2 separate regions of the Homo sapiens genome follow, and region 1 is linked to region 2. Evidence: fine-mapped expression QTL. A gene starts in region 2. The other region holds a variant in brackets. All regions are shown on one strand. Distances are between the middles of the regions. Region 1 overlaps PITPNM3 (PITPNM family member 3). Region 2 holds the start of PITPNM3 (PITPNM family member 3).

Region 1 (2,796 bases), 91 kb after region 2:
CACATATTCTATAATTTACCCATTTAGATAGTACAATTCAGTGGATTTTAGTATATTCACAGATGTGTGCAACCATTACCATGGTCAGTTTTAGAGCTTTTTCATAACCTCCAAAAAGAAGCTCTGTACCCTTTAGCTGACACTCCCTCACTTGCCCCAGGCAATCAGTAATCGACTTTCTGTGCCTGCAGATTTGCCTATTCTGGACATTTCATTTCGATGAAATGATGTAATATGTGACCATTTGTGTCTGGCTTCTTGCACTTAGCGCACTGTCTTCAAGGTTCATCCAACTGGTCGCTGTGTCAGAAATTCCTTTCTGAGGCTGAATAATATTCCGTTGTATGGAGATGCTACGTTTTGCTTATCCATTCACTACCTGATGGACATTTTTTGGGTTGTTTTCACCTGTTTTTTTTTTTTGGTTTTTTTTTTTTGTTTTGAGACGGAGTCTTGTTCTGTCGCCCAGGCTGGAGTGCAGTGGTGCAATCTCAACTCACTGTAACCTCCCCTCCCTGGTTCAAGTGATTCTTCTACCTCAGCCTCCCAAGTAGCTGGGATTACAGGTGTTCACCACCATGCCCGGCTAATTATTTTATTTTATTTTATTTTTTGTATTTTTAGTAGAGATGGAGTTTCGCCATGTTGGCCAGGCTGGTGTTTTCACCTTTCGGCTACTATGAATAATGCTGCTATGAACGTCCATGTATAAGTTTTTGTGTTTTTCATTTCTCCTGTGTTTTCATTTCTCTCGGGTAGATGCCTAGAAGTGCAATTTCTGTATCAAATGTTAACTCTATGGTTAATCATATAGGGAACTGCCAGACTGTTTTCCACAGTGACTGTACCATTTCACATTCCCACTGCAATGTATGAGGATTCTGATTTCTCCGCATCTTCAGCAACCCCTGTTATTATCTGTCTGTTTGATTCTAGTCATCCCGGTGGGTGTGACGGGGTATTTCATTGTGGTTTTGATTGCATTTCTCTAATGACTCGGGATGCCGGATCTTTTCAGGTGCTTATATTCATGAACCAGCTGCTCCCTCTCCCCTGACAGTGCACCTGTAAGGGGGCCTGCGTTCCCTACTTGGCTGAGTGTCTCCAGGGCAGGGCCCACGACTAGTTTATCTCAGGGACCCCATGCAGATGAGGTGTCTGCAGATATTTGTTGGATTGAATTAAAATGCATGGGAATTGAAAGGAGGTTGAGAACCTGTCTTTGAGGAGTCCGAGGAGTGTTTCTTGGCGATGATGGCGCTGAGTCTAGTCATAGCGAATGGGCTGGAATGTGGGGGAAGAGGGCCAGGGCCAGGGATGGCACCTAGAGCCAGTGTGGGGGGCGGGACAGCGGTGTGAGCAAAGGCCTGGAGGCTGCTGCAGAGCCTGGCAGAAAGGACCAGAAGGTGTGGATGGGGAGCAGCAGGAGA[C/T]AGACTGAAGAGGTCGTTCAGGCAAGCCTTGGAAAGCTAAGCTCAGGTTCCGGACTCTACGCAGAGGGCAGTGGGGAGCCCGGGAGGGTGTTAGTAGAGCTGTGCTTTATAGAGACAGAGGATCTGTTGCAGGGACTGCCTTTGAGGAAGGAGCTCCATTAGGGAGCTGTTAGCAGCATCCAGGCGATGTGGCTGTGCGAGAGATGAAGATGTGGCCAGTGCGGTAAAGGAGTGGTCACTAGATGGAGAGACTGGGGTCTTGGAGGCCAGGCTGGGAGTGGGGGCTGGTCAGGGCCAACACAGGCTGCAGAATGAACTGAAACCAGTTCATTGATAAATGAAGAAAAATAGGGAGGTTGAGACAGTCACAGATAAAATGACGCAGCGTCCAGGATTGCTCCAGGATAATCCCGGTGGGGCTGGGGCCGAGGCTGGGGAATTGGGCAAGGGAAGAACGAAACCAGGATGGCCACGAGTTTGTTGCTAAGTGGTGGAGCAGGTGCTGGGAACACGAGGCTTTGTTACACTCTTCTCTCTCTCTATGCTTGTGCATTTGAAATTTTATCTTAAAAAAAAAGACAGATAGTAAATACTGTTGGATGTGAGCTGTGATGTAGAAGAAAGAACCAAAAGTGACCAGGCAGTTTCCAGCCCGGGGATCTGGAAGATAAGCACAGGCTGTGAGGCCAGTTGTCCCCTCAGGGCCGAGCAGAGTCAAAACAGAGAACGGGCCAGGCACGGTGGCTCATGCCTATAATCCCAGCACTTTGGGAGTCCGAGGTAGGCAGATCACCTGAGGTCGGGAGTTCGAGACCAGCCTGATCAACACGGAGAAACCCCATCTCTACTAAAAATATGACATTAGCCAGGTGTGGAGGCGCATGCCTGTAATCCCAGCTACGCAGGAGGCTGAGGCAGGAGAATTGCTTGAACCCGGGAGGTTGCGGTGAGCCGAGATTGCGCCATTGCACTCCAGCCTGGGCAACAAGAGCAAAACTCCTTCTCAAAAACAAAAAACAAAAAACAAAACAAACAAACAATCAATCAAACAAAAAACACGAAAGCAGAAAACGTACAATGGCAGGAAGCCCTGTGCACCTTGAAGACAGCGTTTGGGGGACTCACGGTCTGTTTTTCTCACACGTTCCCTGGGAACACATCTCTGAAACTCTAGCAGAAGTTAGTAGAGAGACATGATTCAGCAAGCTGATATGCCTCCAGCCAGTCTGAGGAACACTGCAATGATAAAGCAAGGTTGAGCCTCCCTTGCAAGGGCTGAGCCAGCTTCTTTCTGTCCTTCCAGAATGTCACGGCTAATCACCGGGCCAATGATGTGATTGCTGCTGAAGATGGCCCCCAGGTCCTG
Region 2 (2,796 bases):
GCCCCCACTTCGTTATGTGTATGCTGAGGATAACGCAATGTAGCTGAGAGAGTACATGAGGGTAAATACCGCCTGTTCAATCAATAGTCCTTGTTATTCTCATCCCCAGTCCCATTCTCATAGTGGGGAAAGGCTGCAGGGTCCATTCCTGCTCTCCCAGCTGGTGACCAATGGCAGGTGCTGGTGAACAGCGTTGGATTCAGGAGCCCAGAGCTTCTGAAATTCTACATCTGTTGGAGTTGGTGCTGTCATCTGGCTCTGGGATCCAGAGCTCTTGGGACTCATGGGTTTCCTGGGAGGTGAGCTCTGGCAAACGTGGATGGTTGTTCTCCCTGGGTGAATCCATACTAGGGAGTTTGGGTAGAAGGCCTTGGGAAGCCCTGGTTTTGTTGGGTGAGGTGTCGGAAGGCAGAGCAGAACTCATGGATGGGACATGCGGGTTGTAGATTTCAGCTCAAACGAGTAAGAACATTCTTAAGGCCAGCACTAGCCAAAAAAAAAAAAAAAAAATTAATAAAAGGAAGAACTCTCACTTAAGATACTGAGCTTCCTGTCCTTGGAGGTAACCAACCAGGAGCTGGAGGACTGCTTAGCAGGAATCTTGTGAATGGAGTCAAAGCCCCAGAGAAGGCACTGGACTGAGAGCCCCCATCTAACCCCATGTGTGCCCTGTTTCCATAGAGGAGCTTGCAGGACCCTGGAGCCTGGACCATGGATGGAATTCTCCAGTTGACCTTTTCCCTGTTAAGTGGAGTGGGACAGGGTGGGTTGGGTGCCTGGCTCTACAGATGGTAACTGGGCTTCAGCCTTACCAATTCCTGGGGGAGGCAGGGCACCCTCTCAGTGGAGGGTTGTTACCTCTCAGGCACCGCCAAATACAATTGGCCATCTCCTGCTCTCTTTTGGGGCTGGACTGTGGATCCCTGCTGCCCCTAAACAGAAGTCATAACCCATATCTCCCCGGACCACAAGGCCTGTCCACTAGAATCTCTGCATCCCGATTTAGGAAGTGGAAGGCGGGTACTGCTCACCACCAGGCCGCTGGGGTCCACAAAGCCTGCTCCAGCCTAGAACCCCAGGTGGATGTGCAAGTGTTTTACTTATCCCTTGAGGGTTAAAATCACGGGAATCCTTTCTCTTTTGAGGTTAGGTCAGACGCCATAAATGATCCAGAACCCCTGGAGCGGGGGCTGATGGAGGGGGTCCCTCTCTTGTCTCTGATCCCAGAGCGACTTTCCTCTTGACTTCGTGGGGGCCTCCCTTGGATCCCTGTCCTCCTTCCTCTCTCCGCTCCCTCTGTCCGTCTCTCCCGGAGCCGGAGCCGGGCTCTGGGTCTCTGGTCTCCTCTGAATTTCTCTCTCTCTCCCTCCACCTCGGCGTTCTGGCCCTAGGAGCGTCTCTCTCCAGCGCTGTCTAATAGTCTGTGCGCCCCTCTCCCAGTCCAGGGCCCCGTCTCTGGCCCGCAGTGTCTCGGGCTGTCTCCGCGTCTCTGAGCCCCTGGGCTGCCGCCCCTCGCGCGCTGCGGTGGCCGCGCGGGCCGGAGCGGAGCGGGCTGGAGCGCGGCGGCCACGGCCCGGGGCGGGGGTGCGGGCCCGCGGGGGCGGCGTTGGGCGCCTTCCTTCGTCAGTCCCTCCCCGGCGGCGCGGGGGGTGGGGTGGGGGGGGGGCGCGGCCGCCGCTCGGCGCCTTTAAGGGAGCGGGAGGGAGCGGCGAGGCGGCGGCGGCTGCGGTGGCGGCAGCCGAGGCGAGCGGGGCGGGGGCGCGGGCGCGGCGCTCGGAGTCCGTTCGGGGCCGGAGGCGGTCGGGGCCGGGCCCGGGAAGCGCGAGGAGCGCGCGTAGCGCCGCCGGAGCCCGCCGCCCGGGACATGGCCAAGGCGGGCCGTGCAGGTGAGGGCGGGCGCGGGGAGGGCAGGGCCGGGGCCCGGGGGAGGGACTCGCGCGTCTAGAGGAGGGGCCGCCGGCCCAGGTGAACCCCTCGCGCAGGTGGGCGGAGGTCCCGGGAGGGCGTAGGGGGCGGTAGCGGGGCTGGACCTCCCGCGCGTGGAGAGGGGGCTCCGCGCGCCCCCCGTCCTTCCTGCGCCCCCGGTCACCTCGGGGGACACCGCGTCCCCTTCTCCACGGCCCCGCCGGAAAGGGCCAGGTCTGCGGCGCCCCGGGCCAGTCCCGCCGTTGGGAGCCCTCTGCACCCCGCGGAGGCCCCGGGCAGACCCGGGCTTCGCCACCGAAGGGGATGTCCCGCGGCCGCCGCTTCGTCCCACACCCCAACGCAAACCGGGACGCGCCCCCTGCTCCTGCAGCTCTCTCCATCCAGGACGCCACAACCCCCCGCCCCAGCCCCCGTCACCAGCTCAGTCCAGAGACCCAGATTCCTTCTCGGGAAGGAGGGGAGCCCCGTGCCGCGCCGGCTGCTGGCCGCCCCGCCCCCTCCCCCATCGACCCTGGGACGCAAAGCCTCAGCTGCGGAGGCCTCTTCTGGGGTCCCGTGGGCTCTGCCCTCCCCCAGGCTCAGACGGTGTAGCCTGTGGTTTGAGGGAGCGGGCATTAGTCATTCGTTCATTCATCCAGCCCGACGTTCATTCACTAGCATCTGCTCTGTGCCAGACCCTGAGCTGGGCACCGGGGCTCAGGCGGACTCAGCCCCCCTGCTGCGCCCATGCTGGGGAGACCCAGGCCCGTGACTCATCGGGCACATTCTGGGCCCGATGGTGCCTTGGGAGGCGGGTGGAGGACAGCTGTGCCCACAGGGCCGGCCATACAGTAGGCGGCAGCAAGCCTGGTCTCGGCAGTGCCTCTTGTG

The links. PIP is the estimated chance that this variant, and not a neighbour inherited with it, causes the effect.
Region 1: its variant is the best candidate, but not a certain one, in a credible set for the expression of PITPNM3 in nasal epithelium (TOPMed, PIP 0.66).

What each region holds. Positions count from the first base shown.
Region 1 is chr17:6,464,709-6,467,504 of GRCh38, reverse strand. PITPNM3 (PITPNM family member 3) reads left to right here. Exons shown (of 20, transcript NM_031220.4): 15 at 2,734-2,796. Among named protein-coding and RNA genes, the nearest start is that of PIMREG, 22 kb to the right of the region's middle. RefSeq lists an enhancer at 2,707-2,796. The variant C/T (reference allele first, on the strand shown) is at 1,431.
Region 2 is chr17:6,555,475-6,558,270 of GRCh38, reverse strand. It overlaps PITPNM3 (PITPNM family member 3), which reads left to right and starts at 1,716. Exons shown (of 20, transcript NM_031220.4): 1 at 1,716-1,886. The coding sequence starts at 1,865.